Linked DNA regions of Homo sapiens. The protein of the gene in region 1 purifies or fractionates together with the protein of each later gene. This does not show direct contact. Each region holds a gene or a part of one and is shown on either strand. Other genes may lie near its edges. The genes, in order: GAL3ST1, PSG3, LRIG3, LRIG1, PIGU and PSG4.

Region 1 (3,972 bases):
CCTGAGGGCCTTGCCCTCTGCCTCTCACTGTTTGCTGGCTGTGTGGGCAGAGAATGTTTTTGTGGCAGTGGATGTAGGTCCAACCTGTGCAGGGGGAAGGCAAGAGCTTGGGCAGGCTCTGGCCTGGGGAGCAGAAAACCTAGGGCTCCCCCTCTCAGCTGGGACTGGCTGTGGGTGGAAGGAGAGGGCTGTGTGCCATTCCCACTCTGTCATGCACACGGCGATGGGAGGGAGTGAGGTTGCCTCCAGAGGCTGGGACAGAGGGTCAGGACCTCTGGAGCCAGAGCCTGCAGCCCCGGGAGACAACTCAGGCCTGTCTGGGGAACTGTGCATCCAGGGCCACACGGCTAGAGCGCAGGCCCATCAGATACGGAAAAATTCCTGGCAGCCATGCTGATGTGGAATTTTCCCCATTCCAGAATCGCCCAGTAATGGCGGGGGCAGTGGGGCTCTGACGCATCCCAGGCCCCACTGGGTGGCCAGCTGGTTCCTTACTGCCCACAGCTGGCGCTGAGGATTCCTGGCCCCTGGCAGGCATTGGTCCTCATCCATGGTCTTGCTCCTCTGGGGTGAAGAAGGAAAGGCCAGGCCTGGAAAATGAGACAGGGCCTGGATGGGACACCTGCCTCCTGGTGGCCTTGCTCAGCCCTCATTGGCACCCTAGAGAGTGACAGCTGAGACCTCCAGGTGACAGGACCAGTTGGAGCTCAGTCTCTTGCTTGAGCTCCCTCCACTCCCATGAGTGCCAAAAATGTGTCGTCCCCAGTTGGCACTGACTAGAGCAAGAAGCCGTATGATCCATTGGATCCTAAGGGCCCCAGGACCCCCCAACCAAAGTTAAGCAATAGTCCGTCCGCCGCCTTTTTCCCAGAGCCCTGGCTCCCCTCCCCACCACCACCAAGCCTGGGCATCCTCAAGTCTTCTGGGCTGGGGGCTCCGTTGAGCCAGAGGACCGGGGCGGGACAATGGCCCCGTTGGCGCGTCCGAGACAAACGGGCCTTGTTGGGCCGGCGGCGGGGGCGCAGCGTTGCGCCCCAGCGCGCTGAATGCGGCTTCTGTGCGTCTCGGGCGGGCGCAGAGGGGCCGGGATGGGGCGGGGAGGGGGCCGGCCCGGGGCGGGGAGGGGTCTGGGGTCCGGGGCGTCCATTGGCCCCGGCGCCGGAGGCTGGGCCAGGCTGGCGGCGGCACCTGGCCGGGAGCGGGCGCGGCGCGGGAGCGGGCGCGGCGCGGCAGCGGCGGCGGGGGCGGGGGCATGGACCAGGCCTGGTGGAGCGGGGGGCCCGGCCGGGTGCGCCCCGCCGCCCAGTGAGCGCCCGGGCGGCGCGGCCCGGGCCGAGCCAGCCACGCTGAGGCGGAGGAGGACGGGGACAAGGTACGTCCCGGGCTCCAGCACCCACTGCCAGCTTGAGCCCTGCCTCAGTCTACTCCCTGGGGATACCGCCCACATTACGCTAACCCCCAAACTGGGACCACGCGCCGGAGGAGGGGAGTAGGAGTGCAGTACCGCTGTTCTAAGCGCTGGGTACCCCTGCCCACTGCCAGAGGGTGGCCTGGTAGGGGCCAGGGAGGGCACAGGTTGGTGCCCCCCATGCCCTTGGTTTTTTCCCCTGTCCCCCAACCCCCCTTCCAGGGCTTCCCAGTCCCTGAAGGTGGGATGGGTGGGGCAGAAGGCAGGCTGCTGGGGCTGAGCTGGAGCTGGGAGTGCGTTAATGATTAATCTTGGACACAGTGGCCAGAGCCCTAGGGGAGGAGGGGCAGAGATCTCCCCTGTCTCCATCAGCCCTTCCTAGAAAGGGGATCAGAGCAGGAACCGGAGACCATAGTAAGGGATGGATCCCCTCTGCTGGGGGAAGGCCCTGGCCTGTACCCCAGAGGAAGCAAAGCCACCAAGGAGAGGTTTGGGAGAGTGGGACAAACCCTGGCATCCAGGAGGGGTCCTATAGGAAATCCTACAGTTCCTGTTTCCTAGCCCAGTGCCCAGGAAGGGGGTCCAGCTTGATCTGCCCCTTCGGTGCCAGGCCAGCATTTTGGTACCAGCACAGAGCACACTACAGACCGAGCCCTGCCCAGTGGGAACTGCCCCGCCCAGCTGCCCAGAGCCAGAGAGGTGATGGGCATGTCTGGCTGCTGTAACCCACACCAGGGGGAAGGAAAGGGAGAGAAGGCAGCATGCCTGACACCTGATCCCCGGGCTGCCGCGGTGACAGGTGCATGAGAATCCTCCAGAGGGGAGAGAGGTGTAGAGGACTGTCCATTCCAGTTGGGAAAACCCAATCTCTTCCTTTACTGACGGGGTGACCTGAGGCCCAGAGAGGGTGAGGCTCATCCAGGCCCACACAGGGGGCACAGGAGGGCAGTCCTGGACCAGAGCAGTCACTGTGTACGCACTGTTCCTTGTCCTGTGAAGGAGGCATTGCTACCTATCCCCATTATCCAGAGGGGGATACTGAGGCTCAGGGAAATTCAATGACTTGTCCAAGGTCACATGGCTCAGAGGTAGCTGAGCTGACTCCAAATCATAGGAGTCTTGCCCTGGCCCCCATTTCAGGACCCCAGCCCAACCCATGACCTCTCTCTGCTCCTTTGGGGTCCTGCCTTCTTGGATCTGCCTGGGCTGCCCCAAACCCTCAGCTCTGGACACCCCCCCTCGCCTCCCTGGCTCCCAGCTCCGCCTGACACTTCAGCGGGTGAGCAGGCTGCTACCCCGGGAGCCGAGACAACGAAGCCCTGTTCCCAGCTGCCACCTCAGCCTGCTTTATTCCCTGCTTGCTCAGGCAGAGCCCTTCCTGGAGGAAGCTCCTTGCGGACAGAGAATGCCTGGTCCCCATGCATCCCCTTCCCTTAATGGGTCCGATGCCCTCTTGTCGCCCAGCAAGGGAGGAGTGTGTCCCCCACAGCCCCTCCCACTGTGTTCTGAGGGACTGGGTGTGCCATCCAGTGAAAGAGGCAATGATTAACCTGAGAGAATGATGCACAAATGGAATTCTGGGCCCGGCTGCAGGCTCCTGAAGGGCTCCTTGCTTCACTTTGACTGGGTGAGGAATATGGATGAGCCCTTTTAGGGGCTCCACACGACTCCAAACAGGGCAGAGCAGGATGGAACACAGGTGCCCATGGGGGTCATCAGGCTGGGGACTGCTGGAATCTCCAGGTGAGGGGTGATGGTGGGAGGAAGTGGGGGCCCAGAAGATGCCTGCCTTCCCTCCTGCTAGTTCTGGCTCCTTGGATGGGGATGGTATCCTTCTAGAAGTCTGGACAGAGCCCGCTTCCCCTACCAGGTGGGATCTAGGAGGATCACAATACAATCAGAGGAGCTAACGCTGAGTGTGTGAAGGGCTCTGCGTGCCTCACAGCAGGCCTGTGAAAGCATCATAGTACCTGCCATTTTTTAGGAAACCAAGGCTCAGAGAGGGGAAGTCACTTGCCCAAGGTCACCCAGCTTGGGGGGTGGTGGAGCCAGCATTTGTTACCAGGCGAGTTTCCAGGAATGGAGAGGTGGGTGTATGTATCTCCGGCATTGTGCATTGCAAGTGTCAATACCTTTTCACAAACCTTTATATTGTTACATAGTTTTAGGCAAATAAGCGCATAAGAATCCTTAAAAAATATTTCAGGCATGTTGTAAGGTACAGAGACTGATATTATCAACTCCTACATACTCAGCTCTGGGGTTCTCAGCATTTTTGGAGCTAATGACAAAGTGACTGACTTCTTGGTGAAGCTGTGACTTGCAACGCCCCAGTTAGCGCTTCTCTAAGGCTACTCAAATCCCCCCCTCAGGAAGCGGGGTGATTTACCCAGACAAGGCAGTGTAGCAGGAAGAGCTGTGGCCTTGCTCCTCATTTTGGCTTTGCCGTGTAGGCAAAAAAACTGAGCCTCAGTTTCCCCACACATCACATGGGGCTAGCAGAGGAGACTGGGAGTGTCTGTCAAGGTCACAGGCATGGATGCCCTTTGTTTTTGTTTTTGTTT
Region 2 (3,500 bases), on another chromosome or scaffold:
GTTTCCCAAAGTGTCCATGTCACTGTCACAAGAGGATCAAGGAGAGGACCTTGTTTTCTTTCCCCACTCACACCCTACACCACCATAGGCCCAGCGAGACAGACACACTCAGGAGCTCTTACATAACAAATGAAGAAATGGAATGAAGAAATGAATGATCCAAAACCTCTTTAGAGACTGAATTTGCATGCAGAATCCTAGGAGGTTCTAGCCACACCTGTCCCTTGTCCTTCAGAGGCTGACACCCACGTTTCATCCCCCCACTACCTCTTGACCCTAAAGCAACCCCACCTCATGTAACTCTGAAGCTCTTTGGCCACCGGAGGGTTCTCAGGGCTCCTTGGTCCTGGACTGTGGAACTGGGGGCACCTGGTCCCTGGGGTCTCTGAAGTCAGTGTAGCCCTCACTGCTCACTGCCATGGTGTCTCTGCCTCTCTCTGCTTCTCTGTGTCCCTCATCTTCCTCCCACTTCATTCTGACTGGCAAGCCCTGTCCTGCACAGCTTCTTCCCCCACCCCTAGGTCTTCCCCAGACACTCCCTCTAACTAGGCTGACTGTTCAGTTCCCTTCCCGCTAACACTGTGGCCTGGCCCACCTCCCAGGAAATAGGAAAGGTGCAGAAATCACCTGGAGTTGCCACTCCTGCCAGGCTTCCTCTAGAGCCAATGTCCCCAGGTCACTAAGAGAATGAGTTTCCACTGTATTCCCATCCAGGGCTCTTTCCCTTTGTGAGGCTGACCTGTGGACAAGACCATGGGACAGGGATAGGCAGTTTCTCCATCCACTCTTATAATTGCCAGACAAGTTCTTCTGGCCTCCTGCACACACACACACACACACACACACACACACACACACACACACACACAAATGTATTGAAATGGTGGTTTGTAGTAAAGAAAGATTTTAATGACTCCAAGTCTGCCAAACAGGAGGATGGAGGTTTATTATTACTCAAATCAGCCTCCCCAGTGGATCAGGGCTTAGAGATTTTCAAGGATAGTTTCAGGGGCACAGGACTAAAAAATGAGTACTGCTGATTGGTGATGGAATCATGCGGGCGGAGGGAAATGATCTGTTTGTGCTTGAATCCACCTCTAGGTAGGGACCACATGACGGGCTGAGCCATTAGTCATAGGTATGGATGAGGTCAGCCGGTTGCCAGAATGCAAAAGAATGAGAAACATCTCAAAAGACCAATCTCACGTTCTACAATAGTGATGTTATCTATAGGAGCAATTAGTTACAAATTTTGTAAACTCTGGCCCAACGACATTTGAGCAGTCAAGGATTATAAAAACTCTGCCAACATTTTAGCAGAATTCAGTTCCCTCCTATAATCTTAATCTCATGGTCTTTCACTAGTTTTACAAAGGCAGTCCCTGGGCAAAGTAAGGGTGTTACTTTTACAGAGGAACAATTATCATTCTTGCTTCAAAGTTAAACAATAAACTAAATTCCTCCCAAGGTTAGCCTGGCCTATGCCCAGGAATGAGTGAGGACAGCCAGCCTGAGACTAGATACCAGATGGACTCAGCCATGCTAGTTTGCTGTCACTGTTGTAATCTTAGCACTGACTCACCAGAGTGTCAGAGGCTGGACAGGCCTGCAGTCCCCAAACCCCATGGGCTCATTTCACCCATTTCACTTGTGACTCCATCCTCAACCTGCTATAAAGCTCACATTCTCCGGTCACTTCCTAGAGACTTCTGGCTTCCTGTCAGGCATATAACAAGCTTGAAATTTGTTCCTCGGTTCTAACACTAAGTAAAAAGCTGAACAAACTCAAAAGTCAACAACTCATTAAAATCCCTCAGAGATGGCTGGGCACAGTGGCTCATGCCTATAATCCCAGGACTTTGGGAGGCCGAGGCAGGCACAAGGTCAGGAGATGGAGACCATCCTGGCTAACATGGTGAAACCCCGTCTCTACTAAAAATACAAAAAATTAGCTGGACGTGGTGGCAGGCGCTTGTAGTCCCAGCTATTTGGGAGGCCAAGCCAGGAGAATGGCATGAACCCAGGAGGTGGAGCTTGCAGTGAGATGAGATCATGCCACTGCACTCCAGCCTAGGTGACAGAGCGAGACTCTGTCTCAGAAAAAAAAAAATGTTTTTAGAGACATGAAGAATGCTTTTGATACTTACTGGTAGACTGAACATAGCTGAGGAAAGAATCCCTAGCTTGAGGATATGTCAATAGAAACTTCCAAAACTGAAACAGGAAAGTTCAACAAGAGTGGGGAAAAAAAGTGGAACAACATTTCAACTTCATATTTAATATTTTGATTTGACAATAGCAATTTTTAAATTTTGTAGCTGTGGGACAACTACAAAGGCTATAAGATACACGTAATGGGAATACTGGTGGTTTTGGGGACCAGGTGGAGGTGGCCAGGTGGGTGCTATCTGATGGCTTTACTGCCTGTGCCACATACAACTGTTTCCTCATGATGATGCCGTTTTCATAAGTTGGAGTTCTGCGTGTGGGGAGACACACAAACCATTGGCATCTCACTTAGACTCTTTCTAATTCACACAAACTTAAACACTAGTGGTGTTTCCTGAGCTTAAGAGAAAATGAAGAAAGCATTTCACATACCTGTTTTGGGGTCCTCCCCATTTTTCCTAACTCTGCACAGAAATTAGAAGCAGGTTCTTTCTATATTTACTAACATAACACACATCACTTCTTTTAGTTTGGCATCCTTCCTCCCTTTATGCAATTGACACACTAACCAGTTCTGTCCTTTTAACGGGACTCTCTCTACTTAAGGAGTTGCTAATTTCAAATCACCTTTGGCATCTTTCTTTGAGCATAATGTGATCCTGCTGGAATTCACGGCACACCTAAACCTTATTTTGGTCTCAAGAGAAATACTACTACCAGCAATTGATCTTAGATGTTTGGATCATCAGTAAAAATTTCCACTTATGAAAACATTTCAATGTTTCCTCCAAATTTTTTGCTGTTGTTGTTACTAGAGTCAGAACATAAGGTCTAAACTCCTGACAAATTTTTATGGGAAAATTACAGTATTACAAATTGAGCATCGGAAATCCAGAAATCCACAATCTGAAATGCTCCAAAACTCAACCCTTCTGACCACTGATGTGATGCTAAAAAGAAGTGCTCACTGGCGCATTGTGGATTTTAAATTTTTCAGATTTGGGATGCTAAACCAGTACATGTACTGTAAATATTCCAAAATAAAAAAAATTAGAAATCCAAAACACTTGGTTTTAAGCTTTCTGAATAAGGAGCACTTTATCTGTATGAACTATAGGCATGAAGCTGTACAGGAGATCTCTAGAACCTCCTCATCCTGCATAACTGAAACCGCACACCCACAGAACAACGCCCTATTCCCCTGATCCCAGCTCCTGGAAACTACTATTCTACACTCTGATTCACTCTGGAATCCACTGATATCAGGTACATAGAGTAGTCAAATTCAGAATCAGAGAGTAGAATGTCTAATGAGAGAAAGTATCTGCAAG
Region 3 (3,500 bases), on another chromosome or scaffold:
GTCATATATTTTAGAATAACATCGATGGCTTCCACTTGCTGAGCCCTTAATATGTGCCTAGCGCCATGTAGTTTTCCATCTTCATTTCATTTGCACAAGTACCTCACCAGAAAGTATTGTATGTGCCCCACAGTACATGCAGTAAGTAGTAGGTCTTGTACCAAACCTGTGCTCTTGTATTATGCTGTCTCCATTATTATTCTCAAAACTATGCAGCATTGAAAGCAAGGGTCAGAATTAGACTTCTCAAAGAGGCTGGGTGCGGTGGCTCACGCCTGTAATCCCAGCACTTTGGGAGGCTGAGGCAGGCAGATCACCTGAGGTCAGGAGTTCAAGACAAGCCTGGCCAACATGGCAAAACCCCATCTCTACTAAAAATACAAAAACAAAAGAAAGCATTAGCCAGGCGTGGTGGCATGTGGCTGTAGTCCCAGTTACTTGGGAGGCTGAGGCAGGAGAATCGTTTGAACCCAGCAGGTGGAGGCTGCAGTGAGCTGAGACCACGCCACTGCACTCCAGCCTGGGTGACAGAGCGAGACTTCGTCTCAAATAAATAAAAATAAATAAATAAAAAATAGACTTCTTAAAGAAAATAATGTAAACCATTAGACTTTTAAGCCCATTCATGTAACCAGTTAATATCATTTAAGGGCCAAAGAACATTTATAATGTAAAGGATACACAAATATCCTTTACACATGGAATAATTACATTTTTCTAAACCTACTAGTCTTTTTTTATTGTTAGAAACAAAGATTTATTTCTTTCCTAGTATTTAAGAGAACGGTATAGAACTATACAATTTCAACCTTGCTAGTGATCTTGGGCCAGGTCCTAAATGTCAGTGTTATCAATGTCTTGTGAAAATGAATATCATATCTGAGCCTTCCACCATATGACTTCAAAACAATTACAGCCCACATTCATTTTAAACACTTACCACTACTGTCATGTTGTGGTAAGAAAAATCCAGCACCTGAAGATGTGACAAACTGGTGGTGGCTTCCACTTTCTGAAGACACGTACCCATCCTGCCTGTCAGCTAACGTTCCCTGAGATGACAAATAACTAGGAATATCTGCTGGCAAGTTGGTCTCATCTGTAATAAAACAGCAGCATTTTATTAACCAAGGATGATCGTTAATTGTCCCACAGGCATCCCGGGTGAATGGCATAGACTATTTTGGCTTCTGTATACATCAAATTAGGGGAGATCTACTCTGGCAAAACCATCTCGATTGTACAGTATTCTGGAACGGCAAATTAGGGCTTTGCTGCTCTGGGACGTATAAGCTGACTTTCTGTTTTATCACCCATTGGATGCACCTCCCAAATTTCAAAACAACAAATGTTTAAACAGATTTTTTAAAAGGCTGAAGGCCTAAGAATTTTCATGGGACAGTATCTAAGCTTTCGAATTATGCTTGATTATTGCCATATTCCCTTCTTAATATTACTAATCAATATCTGACTTTGCACATACTAATCAAGTCACAGCTCCTCTTCCACTAATAAAATCCAACCTAAGTACATGCACATACGCACAGACAACAAGACATACAACTACTGCAGAGAGTAAACCTTATCATTAAAGGGCTGTTCCTGGTTCTCCATCACTATCTTATGAAGGAGTTAGAAATATTTTAGTCAGTGACTTGGATTTTATCTCACAGCCACAGGATACCCTGATGTCATTTTAACAAAAAGTATTAATCTTTAAACATCAGCTTTATTTGGGGCTGGAGTTTTTTAGCGAATCATATTTCTGCAGCTTGAAACAAATGAGTCACCCTTCTGAGATGAACTCAGACTGCAAGACACACGTTCTAGAAGTATTTGCAGAACCACAAATACACATGACTCCGGTGACCTGTGCCAAGCTTCTGTTTACACACCTGTGTTGGTAATGCTGCAATCTTCATTCCTCCGCCTTGTGTGGTATATGATGACCACCCACACGAGTGACGTGCCCACCACACAGCAAACCACGGCTATGATCACGACACCCACAGTGGCCCATCCGTCATCGTCTAACGATGGGGCTGTCATCTGAGGGGAGTCGCAGGTTGGAGTGGGGATCACACTGAGGCGCACGTTTCCTCTCTCAGTGCCAAGGGTGTTAGACATCTCACATGTGTATTTCCCAGCATCACTGACATCTGAGTCCACAATAATCAGAAGCTGATTGCCTGCTGCAAAAAAGTGCCTCTCGGTTACCACCAATGGGCTATCATCTTTGGTCCAGTTCAGTTTAGGGGGAGGGCTTCCTCCAGCAATGCACTGTAGGACGGCTGTTTCTCCCTTGGTTACAGTTCGGTCCAACAGTGGCCGCAAAAATGATGGTGTTTCTGAAATAACAAGTTATGCTTTTAATTTCCCAAATAAAATTTAGTTTCCATATCATAAAATGTAGCATTTAAACTTATTCAAATTGTAACCTAAAATTTTATTCTCCCACAACTTACTGGACACACTTTTCTAAGAGCCTAAACATATACAACATTCAGTATTTCACTATTCTGCTGTCATTTACTCATAACACCAGTTAAGGATAATATCTACTATTTTTAAAATCTCAGCTTCCCTCACTTTTGCAAAAGTCGGGAAGCTGGTAGTAGGGGGGGAGAGTGGGAAACAAAAGCTTTTTAAAAATAGAAAGTACAAAAATAATTTCAAGCACAAGGGTATGTTGATAAATAAAAAAAATCAGAATGCTTAAGTTTTTTAAGTGAAACTTTTTAGGGCCGGATGCCTGGGCCTATATTAAAACTCTGACAATAATTTACTTTTATTATTTAGTATCTTAATAGGTTACGTTAATTAGCTCTTTCAAAGATACGTGAATAATAATTGTGTTTACATTTTTAAAAAGCATTTGTTTAGGTAAAAGATGAAAAAAAAACTCTGACTTCCGGAGAGGTATGGTAGGCTGAGAAAAGAGAGTAAGGCCTTCCCAATTTGTTCCCACATTTTTTTTTAATGTTCTTTATGGTGTTAAGACTACTGATATAGACAGCACAGTGGGGAAATTAGAGGAGGGTGATCCCCCATAAAAGGGAAAGCATCCCAACTTTTCCTCGGCCCCTCTCTTCAGGATGGAGGGGGCAGGGATTCACCTCAGTGGCCAGACTTGAGGATGTCATGCAATCCCTGACTTCAAAGTGTTCAAGAGGCCATTTGCATTAATACTTTCTAGGAAAAGGCAATGCCCCATACATCTTCATCTCTTACTCTCACAACTTCTGATACTTAGGGACCTTGGATGAGCTAGTATCTTCAAGACTGATTTATACTACAGAATCTTAACAAATTCACCCACCTAGGACAGTCAGAGTTGCATTTGCTGAAATACTTCCTGCACTGTTCTGAGCTGTGCAGCTGTATACCCCAATGTCCTCTATCTTCACATCCACGATAAAGAACACGTCATCCTCGGGCATCACATGCATGCGTCTCTCCCGTGCAGCTGGGAAGTCTGTGCCCCCATCCTTCTGCCAGGC
Region 4 (3,500 bases), on another chromosome or scaffold:
CTTTTCATTTCCTGCCTTTAGTTCTTTATATCTTCTAAATGGGCATTTGCTACCCAGCTGTCTCCTGGTCTCCATTTGGGTTATTGACTGGGGGAGAGAATGGGCTAGGGACAAAGCTTTCCTCACCTTTACTGTGTTAAATATGCAGGGGCTCTTGCCGCTGGTGGTCACACCCAACTCACACTCGTCATTAAGGAGTGGCGGTGAAGGGGTTGAAAGTTAATTCTGTGGTCCATCCCTGGCACCTCCAGTCTACAGCTACATGTGTGATTTTGGGCAAACCTCTTCATGTCTAAAAAGACAGAAAAATGCTCTATCTTATAGAAGCTGTGAGGACAAAGTTAGATGATGCCTATATTTAGCTAGGTTCCTCAACTTGGGTCCATCTACTTTATGATGATTCTGGAGCACAATTTGAAGGTTAAAGGCCTCAGTAGCTCCAATTTATTATCCTGTCTCACAGCCAGTCTCTCCAAGCCAGATTCCTTCCTTCTTCCCTTCCCCTTCCCTCCCCCACTCCCTTCCCTTCCCTCTTTCTCTTTTTCTCTTTCTTTTCTTTTTCTTTCTTTCTTTCTCTGTTTTCTTTTTCTTTTTTCTTTCTCTCCTCCCTTCTTTCTTTTTTTCCTTCTTTCCCTCCCTCCCTCCCTTCGTCTTTCTTCCTTTCTTTCTCTTTCTCTCTCTCTCTCTTTTTTTTCTTTCTTTCCTTTCTTTCTTTCTTTTCTTTCTTTCGACAGGGTTTCACTCTGTTGCCCACGCTGGAGTGCAGTGGTGCAATCAAGACTCACTGCAGCCTCAGCCTCGTGGGCTCAAGCAGTCCTCCCATCTCAGTTGCCTGAGTAGCTGAGACTAGAAGGCTCATGCTACCACACCCAGCTTCCAAGCCAGATTGCTGGTGACAGAGGCTTTCCTGGGAAATGTTTACCTTTCTGCTGTGAAGGAGTCTTTTGGAATGGGAAGATGGCAGCCTTCTCCTGTGAGTTTTGGTGATATGTATGAAGCGGCCTTCTCCCATGGATTTTTGGTGATATGTATGAAGTGCCACAAGTGAACCTCATGTACCCTTGGAAATCTTAGCCAAACAGGCAGGAAGCTATGAACAGTTGCAACAGATTATATAATTAGCAAAAATTATTGAGGTATTTTATAAATCTATTCCAGTTGTACAAATAGTTATGTCTGTTTACCACTATCCTTTTGGAAGGGAGGCAGGTATGGGAAGGTGGCAGGGAAGTGAGAGGCCCTTAAACTAATCATTTTATCCTATTATTTCCCAGGGTTTCATTGAAACTGAGCCCTACCAAGGTGCAAGTAGCACCTCTCAGTCAATAGCTTGGAAAAATGCAGGTGTGCTCTTCCAAACAGGGTTAAGTTACAGACTTTAGGGCTAACTGAATCCTCACTGTACCCGCTTCTCTTTGGAAAACCTTGAGGGAGGAGGGAGGAGGGAGGACAGGAGACAATTGTGGAGTTGTATGCAAAGAACATTTTTCATTTGTTTTGGTCTGTTTGGAATTGCATAGTAACTTTGTAGGGGACACAGGCGGGGAACACAGGGTCATTTGAGGAATCTGGCAAGGATGCCACCTGAAAAGCTGTTTACTGTTTGCTATCACTCCTTGTGCACCTGTACCTGAGTTCCTTCCCCAGTGAATGGCCATGATTCACAGCCTTGCCCACGTGAACGGCCACGATTGTTTTCGTCTTTATTACTATTTAATCTAGCATAACCGGTAAGGCCCATTGTGCGAACAACCAATCTGTTCATTTCTGCAAGTCCTAATACATTTTGGTTTCCTTATGAACCAGGATGCAGGTTCTAATTACTGCTTGTTCAGTTTGTTTTGGCAAAAGGTGACATTTAGAGGGTTTAAAGAAAGCATGGCCTCTTTTTAAGTGTTTTGCGTTGATTAGTTTTTGAACTTTTGTGGTCAAAAGTTCTAATCTCTTATCTTTTATGATCTGCATTCTCAAGATCTCACATTATTGGGAAGAAAATGAAGGAAATGAGTGAAGGTCTCTCTTACAAGCAGAATTAGCTGGACTTTGAGAAACACGATGAACGTAATGCAGGGTTTTTCTTCTTTTTTTTAGCTGATTAGAAAAAAAACAACTCACAACTTTATTTTCTAAGACTCCTTTATGCAGCATTTAACAGCTTCCCCCTCCCTGTTTTGCTCCTTCCACCAATTTATAATTTGCCATTGAAATATTTTACTGCTTATCTTGGTCAAAGCATACATTGCACTGAACTTCTTTTCTTCCGGATTACCTACTTGATGATAGCCTGTTAAATGCAATGAGAAGGATTGAACACTTCTGAACTGGAGGATAGATAATCTTGCTGTTGTTTCAAATCTTGTAGTTCCAGTGCTCTTTTGTTTGAAAGCATTTGTCTCTCAAGCATTAGCACTTTGGGCTGGATAACAAGAAATTAACAAGCTGGGCTCTGCTTAGAGAAAACTTACAACTGATTAGAAAGTAAGCTGTTGCAGGTACAGCTTCTTTTTCTTGAGAGATGATCTGAAATACATAGCTTTTAGAAAAAATTTTGAATTAAGGGAACAGTTGATATGCAGGCAGGTAGTTTAAATAAACTAACTCACTTCTGTTGCTCTGGAGTGTTTTTTCTTACCTTTTGAATATGGAGAAAGGTAAATATCTACACAAGTGGACAGAATAATGTAATGAACTCTAGGTATCTGTCACCCATCTTCAACAATCATCAGCTGTCTTATTTGATCTATTTCCCAATATGCTGCTGCCCTTCCATGTTATTTATTTATTTTTTCTTTGGAAATAAATCAAAGGCATATCATTTTATCTGCAAATGTATAGGTTTTTTTTAAGTTAACAGCTTTATTGAGATATAATTTATATACCATACTATTTACTGTAGGGTGGTTTTAAGAAATTGGAAGTTTTGAAAAAATTGACATTCATTTTAACTGTGTTTTTCCAAAGGGCGTTTTGGTAAGCTATATATTTACAGAATGTTTATTGGGCACATTCTGTGTGCACCCTAGTTTATATGTTCTCAAAATACAGATTTTTTTTCTTTTGTAGGAGGTGTTTAGCAAGCTCTTTTGTGCTAGTCCTCTGCCAGAATGTGCAATTCTGATTAACCTTCCACTTTCTCCACATAGCTCTTACTTGGGAGGTTTCTACCAAGCTATTAATTGTTGATTAAAATCCATTAGTGAACAAACATAATTAGAAATGGAATAGATCATTTAAAAAGTGATGTCTCAGATACTGTTGTTTAGTAGAGGGATAATTAGCCGTTGGTTGTAGTTAAGTCATGAGTCTGAATTGAGTTAACTATTGTTTACTTTGTAAGGCCTGACCCTCCAGCTGTGGCTACTTGAGGCTGCTTTAAATAGAGTTAGAGGCAGCCTGTAAGAAAAATCTTCAAAAAGCAAAGAACTAGGTTCCTGGAACCCTCTGTGCTTGATTTAAACTTCACACAGATTTGAAAATGTGTTCTCCAAGTAGCTGCTGCA
Region 5 (3,500 bases), on another chromosome or scaffold:
ACTCCAGCCTGGGCGACAGAACAAGACCTTGTCTCAAAAATAAAAGAATCAGGGTCAGGAAGAGCACTTCTGATACCACTACTTAAAAAAGCCTTTATGGCCAGGCGAGGTGGCTCACACCTGTAATCCCAGCACTTTGGGAGGCTAAGGTGGGAGGTGGGTAGATTGCTTGAGCTTGAGTTCGAGACCGGCCTAGGCAACATGGTGAAACCTTGTCTCTACTAAAAATACAAAAATTAGCTGGGTGTGGTGGCAGGAGCCTGTAGTCCCAGCTACTCAGGAGGCTGAGGCAGGAGAATCACTTGAACTCAGGAGGTGGAGGTTGCAGTGAGCTGAGATCATGCCACTGCACTCCAGCCTGGGCAATAGAGCAAGACTTTGTCTCAAAAAAAAAAAAAAAGCCGTTATTACAAAATTAAACAGAATTTGTAAGACACACATAACAATGTATTCTATGGTGAATTATTGTAAGGTGAACATTTTTGTAACTGTCATCCAAGTCAAGAATCAGAACTTTGCCACTCACTTCAGAAGCCCCCCTTCGTCACAATCCCCTCACTCTTTTCATAAGTAACTATTATCCTGACTTTTATATGTAATGACATCTTTGTATTTTTAAAAGTTTTATTACTCAAATGAACATCCCTAGTTCATTTGCCGTTAGGCTTAGTCTTGCCCCTAAGAAAAAAGTTTTTGTTTGTGTTTTCAATCTCTCTTAATTTTTAGGGTCCCAGGTTCCCTTTCTCTTCCATAGTGTTTATCTATTGAAGAATCCAGACAGATCTCCCATAGTTTGAATTTTCCTGATTATATATCATGATACAATTTAACATGTTCCTCTATCATCTCTATTTCCTGCAAATAGGCAGCTGGATCCAGAGACTAGATACCACTGTTTTTTGTTTTTTACTTTTTTTTTTTTTTTTCAGCCAGAGTCTCACTCTGTTGCCCAGGCTGGAGTGCAGTGGTGTGATCTTGGCCTACTGCAACCTCCACCTCCTGGGTTCAAGCAATTCTCTTGCCTCAGCCTCCTGAGTAGCTGGGATTACAGGTGTGTGCCACCACACCCAGCTAATTTTTGTATTTTTGGTAGAGATAGGGTTTCACCATGTTGGTCAGGCTGGTCTTGAATTCCTGACCTCAAGTGATCTACCTGCCTCTGCCTCCCAAAGTGCTGGGATTACAGGCATGAGTCACTGCACCAGCCTGTTTTTTAGCTTTTTACTTGAAATCATTTTAAACTTACAGAATACTTGCAAAAATATTGCAGAGAGATCTGTATACCCTTCACCCAGCTTCCCCCAATGTTAATATCCTACATAGTCATAGTACAGTGATCAAAACTAAGATGATAGCATTGGTACAATACTATTAACTAAACCATAGTTGTTAAGATTTTACCATTTTTGCTGGGCACAGTGGCTATGCCTATAATCTCAGCACTTTGGGAGGCTGAGGCGAGGGGATGCCTTGAGCTCTGGAATTTATGACCAGTCTGGGCAACATAGGGAGACTCCCTCTCTACATAAAATTAAAAAAGAGTTAGCTGGTTTGGTGGCGCACACCTGTGGTCCCAGCTACTTGGGAAGCTGAAGTGGGAGGATTGCTTGAGCCTGGGATGAGGAAGCTGCATTGAGCTATGATCATGCCACTGCACTGTATGTAGCCTGGCACCAGAGCAAGACCCTGTGTAAAAAAAAAAAAAAAAAAAAAAAAAAAAAAAAAGTTTTACCATTTTTTCACTAATTTTTTTTCTGTTCTATGATCTAATATTCCATATTGCATTTTTATTTTTATTTTATTTATTTATTTATTTATTTTTTTGAGTCAGAGTCTCGCTCTGTCACCCAGGCTGGAGTGCAGTGACACGATCTTGGTTCACTGCAAGCTCCGCCTTCCGGTTTCATGCCATTCTCCTGCCTCAGCCTCCCGAGTAGCTGGGACTACAGGTGCCCGCCACCTCGCCTGGCTAATTTCTTATATTTTTAGTAGAGATGGGATTTCACCATGTTAGCCAGGATGGTTTCGATCTCCTGACCTCATGATTTGCCCACTTCAGCCTCCAAAGTGCTGGGATTACGGGTGTGAGCCAGCACGCCCGCCCCCCCCTTTTTTTTTTTTTTTTTTTTTTGAGACGGAGTCTCGCTCTGTCACCCAGGCTGGAGTGCAGTGGCGAGATCTCGGCTCACTGCAACCTCCACCTCCCAGATTCAGGAGATTCTCCTGCCTTAGCCTCCCGAGTAGCTGGGATTATAGGTCCCTGCCACCATGCCAGCTAATCTTTGTATTTTTAGTGGATACGGGGTTTCACCATGCTGGCCAGGCTGGTATCGAATTCCTGACCTCAGGTGATCCACCTGCCTCGACCTCCCAAAATGCTGTGATTACAGGCATGAGCCACCGCGCCTGGCCACATATTGCGTTTAGTTGTTATATCTCCTTAGTCGTTTATCTGTGATAGTTCCTTAGCATTTCCTCATCTTTTATGACCTTGACACTTTGAAGAGCTCTGGTCAGGTATTTTGTAGAATGTCCCTCAATTTGGTTTTGTCTAATGTTTTCTTGTGGTTTGACGGAGGTAATGGATTTTGGGGAAGAATACCCCTGAGATGATATGGTCCTCTCAGTGCATTGGATCAGGGGTGCATATTGAAATGCCCTAATACTGGTGATGTCAGCCATAATCCCTTGGTTAATGTAGTGTCTGCCAGATTTCTCCACCATAAAGTGACTGTTTCCCTTTGTAATTAATCAGCATTTTAGGGGCTATTCTTTGGAGCTCTGCAAATATCCTGTTTTTAAATTTTTGCCTACTAATTTTTGCATTCATAGGTTAATCTTGCCTGTAACAGTCATTACTCAGGTGTTTCAATGGTGACTTTTCTGTTTCTCTCATTCATTTTTATTTAATAATTAAAATTCTTCTGTAAGGAAGAGTTGTCATTTCTTTGCATTTATTTAACTATTTATGTCAGTATAGATTTGGATATTTTATACTCTGGACTCTGTATACTATATTCATTCTGTTGTTTGGATTATTCTAGTTTTGGCCATTGGGACCGCTTTCATCTTGACCCCTTTGTCCTTTTGCCATACCTCTATCTCACTTTTTTTTTTTAAAAGCACTTTATTACATTCTAGAACTATAAGATGATCCAGGTTTATCTTGCTTAGTTCAGCCCTGGAATTGACCACTTCTTCAAGGGCCCTGGCTCCTTTTATTAGAGAATGTTATTTAGAAACAAAGTTCTGAATGCTAGGTGTGTTCATTGCAGCTGGAGTGATGCTGCTTCTTAGGCCCTCAGCTAGAAGTATAGGGACACTACTGCTTTTGAACAAGCTTTTGTCCTTATTGATACGGGAAACTGAAAAATAATATTTGTCTTATACAGGATGATATGCTTTTATTATCACCCATAGGAAAAGTATACCAAGGTAACTAAGAATTATTGGCCAGGCATAGTGGCTCATGCCTGTAATCTTAGCACTTTGGGAGGCCA
Region 6 (4,060 bases), on another chromosome or scaffold:
CACCCTGTGTCCTGCCTGCCCACTGCAGCCCAGGGGGCGCAGAGAGCGTGTGATGGTCACACACAGGCACCATCCGGGATGTGGCCACCTGCCACCAGCTGTCCCTTGGGAAGACAGACCTCTCCTGTGTGCTTGTGGGGAGAAGGGGGGTGTTATTTTTCTTTGCTCCCAGAACACAACTCACCCCCACCCGCCCTCTCAGGTGTGAGCAAGGTCCCTCCAGACAGGCTCTCTGGCCACTGCCTGTTCCTCCTCTACAGAGAGCAGCTTGGCCAGGTCAAAACCCTCAGGACAGACCCCTGGGTATGTCAGCACAGGGAGGGCTGAGCCCATCATGGCCACGGAGTAAGTCGGGATGAATCTCTCCAGCTCTGAACCCCTGCTCTGTCCCAGGCTCCCCCTCCTGCGTCTCAACAAGCCATGTCCCGCGGGGTTCCTGGGTAACTCCCCACTTCCTCCTGCACCACCACGGGGAAGGTGTGGTGACCACAGGACAATCAGCTGGGCAGAGAAGAGAGGACATCAAAGGTGGTCAGGGAGAACATGAGAAACCCTGAGCTCCAGCTCAGCCGCCAGACCCCAGGGAGACACAGAGTGACCGAGAACTGTCCCTTTGACTCTGGGATTCACAGCCCCCACTGAGCAATCAGCACAGGCCTCTCCTCCCAAGAGGCCTGAGAGATTCACCCTGCACACCTCCAGGATGGATAGTTTCCTCTGGGAAACCCAGGTACTGAATGTTCATCCTTGGAAGCTGCAGCCAAGCTAGACACGATTAGAGAAAGGAAGGGTCCCTCTTACCAGACAACACAGAGCTCACCCACAGCACAATGGGACGTCACTGTGACGGGAACCTTGTGCAGCTCCTGCACTGAAGGGGAGAGCCAGATGAGGAAGGAAGAGGGTAAAGGGCGTGAATGTGCACCCTACCCCAGAGCCATGGGGACAGCAGGAGGCTGAGGCCCAGGACTCTGCTTGCCTAACCTGCAGGGTATGTGTGTGACCATGTGGGTCGTGTGTGTCTCTTCTGTGTGTGTGTGTGTGTGTGTGCATCTGCACAAAGTGTGTGTTGAGGTTTGGTGAAAGAATCACTGCTGAAAAATGCAGAGGCCTCCACAATTCCCAGGGACCTGAAACACAGACAAAAGGAAAAACAGGAGGGACAAGGAGGCAGAACTGAGAGAGGAGGGGACAGAGAGGTGTCCTGGGCCTGACCCCGCCCACGAGCTTGAGAAATGCTCCTGCCCCGGGAGGAGGCTCAGCACAGAAGGAGGAAGGACAGCACAGCTGACAGCCGTACTCAGGAAGCTTCTGGATCCTAGGCTTATCTCCACAGAGGAGAACACACAAGCAGCAGAGACCATGGGGCCCCTCTCAGCCCCTCCCTGCACACAGCGCATCACCTGGAAGGGGGTCCTGCTCACAGGTGAGGAGAGAACTTCCTGGGAGAGGACAGGAGGAGGAAGCAGAGTGACTGGATGGGGTCTCCTGGAGAGGATGGGGTTCTGAAAAATGAAAGAAGCCAGCACTTTGGGAGGCTGAGTTGGGTGGATCAGGAGATCAGGAGTTCAAGATCAGTCTGGCCAACACTGTGAAGCCCTGTCTCTACTAAAAACACAAAAAATTAACCAGGTATAGTGGTGTGCTCCTGTAATCATAGCTACTCAGGAGGCTGTGGCAGGAGAATCACGTGCACCCACGAGGCAGAAGTTGCAGCTAGCCAAGATAGCACTACTGCACACCAGCCTGGGTGACAGGACGAGACTCCGTCTCAAAAAAAAAAAAAAGAAAAAAGGAAAAAAAGAAAAAAGAAGAAAAGGGAAAGAAGGCTCTGTTGGAGCCTGGATAGGGGAAAATACACCAGAGGGTCAAAATAGGAAAGTCACATTGAAGCGGAATTGGTAAGTGGTAGGAAAATCTTAAGTGTTCTGTTTTCCTGATTAATCATCAGGGGCCACCATATTTTGAAAAATGATAACAATAACTATATCAGATGACACTTCAAATGAAAATATAAGCAGGACATGAAACACTGTCCTCAGCAAGAAACCTCAACAATTGGGGGGAAAAAGAAACATCCAGAGGGTGGAGACCCTGAGAACTCTCACATCTACAGGAGTCTGCCGCCTGTTCCAGGTACTGGGGTGCAACCAAGATCACAAAAGTCCCTGTCCTCACGGAGCTCACACAGTCATCGTGGGGGGAAGACAGACATGCTAAGTGATCTAGAATGTGAGATCAGGTGTTGACAAGAACCCTGGAGGGAGGAGAGCAGGGAAAGGTCAGAAAGGGAAGACCCAGGGTCTCTGAAGGAGGTATCAGGAAAGAAGTCTAAGGATGCCCTGATGTGAGCAGGACCTGAGGGCAGTGTGGAGGGGGCCGTGCGGACCCCTGGGGAAGAGGAATCCAAAAAGAAAAATGCCAAGGTCAGAAGTGTTGAAGGAATGGGGGTCATGCTGCTGATCTTGACCTAGTGGGACAGTAGGACACACACACATACACTCACGCCCCTTTAGTGTGTGTATGTGTTTGTATGTGTGTGTTTGTGTGTCTTCAAGGCTGAGGATTGAAGAGACCTTCTCAGGACCCATCTTTTCACCCCAATACATAGGTCTCAATATTAACTGATGCTCTCTGTACCTCCTAGCATCACTTTTAAACTTCTGGAATCCGCCCACAACTGCCCAAGTCACGATTGAAGCCCAGCCACCCAAAGTTTCTGAGGGGAAGGATGTTCTTCTACTTGTCCACAATTTGCCCCAGAATCTTGCTGGCTACATTTGGTACAAAGGGCAAATGACATACCTCTACCATTACATTACATCATATGTAGTAGACGGTCAAAGAATTATATATGGGCCTGCATACAGTGGAAGAGAAAGAGTATATTCCAATGCATCCCTGCTGATCCAGAATGTCACGCAGGAGGATGCAGGATCCTACACCTTACACATCATAAAGCGACGCGATGGGACTGGAGGAGTAACTGGACATTTCACCTTCACCTTACACCGTGAGTGATTCCACATGATCCCTGGGTGTTGGGGGACAGGGGTCACTTCTACTTCACACACACAGGATTCTCAGGCCTGGACTCTGCCTGTGTCCCTCTCTGCATTAAGTCCCATGCTGGGGTTTGGGCATTTAGTGCAGGACACACAGAGGAGACAAATTTCAACAGATCAGAATTCCTTTCCCGCATTCAGACCCTGCAGACACTCGCTGCAGAGGAAGGACAGTCTGATGGGGGGACTCAGCAGGAGGAGATCAGTCTCAGACAAGCACCTCATGCCCTCTTCATAAATTTGACGCTGACAAAGACCCTGGAGAACTGAGTAGGGCTGGCCTGAGGGGCCCCCTGAGATACTCTCAGAGCAGCTCAGCCCTAGAAGCCTCAACCCCAGACCTCTGTCCCTAAATCCTTGCTCCAGATAAAGCTGAGGAGCCTGTGCCAGTGCTGGGTTGTTCCTTCTTGGGCAGGCCTTACTGGGACCAAGAATTTACCAGCTGTCAGAGGACTGTGTCTCCTGGAGCTGTTCACCAGCCAGGGCTCAGCCCTCAGAGCCTCATCTGGGCAAGGACAGAGCTTTCTTCACCTGACACTCAGAGTGGAGAGGATAGAAAGACAAGCTTTGTAGGACATCGGCTTAGGAGAGTCCATAGAAAGTCTAATGTCCCCAGAAGCAGAAACAGAAGGAGAAGATGTACCTGGTAGCAGATTGTCCACAGGGATCTGATGTAAAGGTGTTTTCTCATGGAAGCAAATTAATAATAAATGCTGTTTGTGTGAAACCTCCACTGTGCCAAGCATTAGGTCAGGTGACTGTGAATCATTTAACATTTATTCACAGATAGCATGAAAAGCCACAGTCCATTTGCCATTTAGCTTATTTGATTGAGAGAAAACTGAGGCACAGGAAGGCACAGTCACTGAACCAGAGTCACACCAACACAAAGGGGAGATCGGGGTCACATGAGGTCTGTCTGCAGCCACAGGCCCTTCCTCTCCTCCACCAGAAGTGAGGGCTTACTGGGTTCCAAGCACCCCATAGTCATTTAT

What was found.
Region 2: the proteins of GAL3ST1 (region 1) and PSG3 purify together in Homo sapiens (affinity purification with mass spectrometry; one large-scale study listed by BioGRID and IntAct). This does not show direct contact.
Region 3: the proteins of GAL3ST1 (region 1) and LRIG3 purify together in Homo sapiens (affinity purification with mass spectrometry; 3 studies listed by BioGRID and IntAct, with this or other methods). This does not show direct contact.
Region 4: the proteins of GAL3ST1 (region 1) and LRIG1 purify together in Homo sapiens (affinity purification with mass spectrometry; 3 studies listed by BioGRID and IntAct, with this or other methods). This does not show direct contact.
Region 5: the proteins of GAL3ST1 (region 1) and PIGU purify together in Homo sapiens (affinity purification with mass spectrometry, with the first as the bait; one large-scale study listed by BioGRID). This does not show direct contact.
Region 6: the proteins of GAL3ST1 (region 1) and PSG4 purify together in Homo sapiens (affinity purification with mass spectrometry; 2 studies listed by BioGRID and IntAct, with this or other methods). This does not show direct contact.

What each region holds. Positions count from the first base shown.
Region 1 is NC_000022.11:30,571,866-30,575,837, reverse strand, and holds the start of GAL3ST1 (galactosylceramide sulfotransferase), read left to right. Parts: upstream 1-1,172; 5' UTR 1,173-1,372; intron 1,373-2,968; exon of another isoform or gene 2,969-2,969; coding exon of another isoform or gene 2,970-3,035; exon of another isoform or gene 3,036-3,151; intron 3,152-3,972. UniProt on the Homo sapiens protein: Catalyzes the transfer of a sulfate group to position 3 of non-reducing beta-galactosyl residues in glycerolipids and sphingolipids, therefore participates in the biosynthesis of sulfoglycolipids.
Region 2 is NC_000019.10:42,733,982-42,737,481, reverse strand, and holds part of PSG3 (pregnancy-specific beta-1-glycoprotein 3 precursor), read left to right. Parts: intron 1-3,500.
Region 3 is NC_000012.12:58,875,505-58,879,004, forward strand, and holds part of LRIG3 (leucine-rich repeats and immunoglobulin-like domains protein 3 isoform 2 precursor), read right to left. Parts: coding exon 3,320-3,500; intron 2,349-3,319; coding exon 1,896-2,348; intron 1,100-1,895; coding exon 941-1,099; intron 1-940. UniProt on the Homo sapiens protein: May play a role in craniofacial and inner ear morphogenesis during embryonic development. May act within the otic vesicle epithelium to control formation of the lateral semicircular canal in the inner ear, possibly by restricting the expression of NTN1.
Region 4 is NC_000003.12:66,491,023-66,494,522, reverse strand, and holds part of LRIG1 (leucine-rich repeats and immunoglobulin-like domains protein 1 isoform 1 precursor), read left to right. Parts: intron 1-3,500. UniProt on the Homo sapiens protein: Acts as a feedback negative regulator of signaling by receptor tyrosine kinases, through a mechanism that involves enhancement of receptor ubiquitination and accelerated intracellular degradation.
Region 5 is NC_000020.11:34,667,093-34,670,592, reverse strand, and holds part of PIGU (GPI-anchor transamidase component PIGU), read left to right. Parts: intron 1-3,500. UniProt on the Homo sapiens protein: Component of the glycosylphosphatidylinositol-anchor (GPI-anchor) transamidase (GPI-T) complex that catalyzes the formation of the linkage between a proprotein and a GPI-anchor and participates in GPI anchored protein biosynthesis.
Region 6 is NC_000019.10:43,202,839-43,206,898, reverse strand, and holds the start of PSG4 (pregnancy-specific beta-1-glycoprotein 4 isoform 1 precursor), read left to right. Parts: upstream 1-1,260; 5' UTR 1,261-1,362; coding exon 1,363-1,426; intron 1,427-1,951; exon of another isoform or gene 1,952-2,024; coding exon of another isoform or gene 2,025-2,136; intron 2,137-2,647; coding exon 2,648-3,013; intron 3,014-4,060.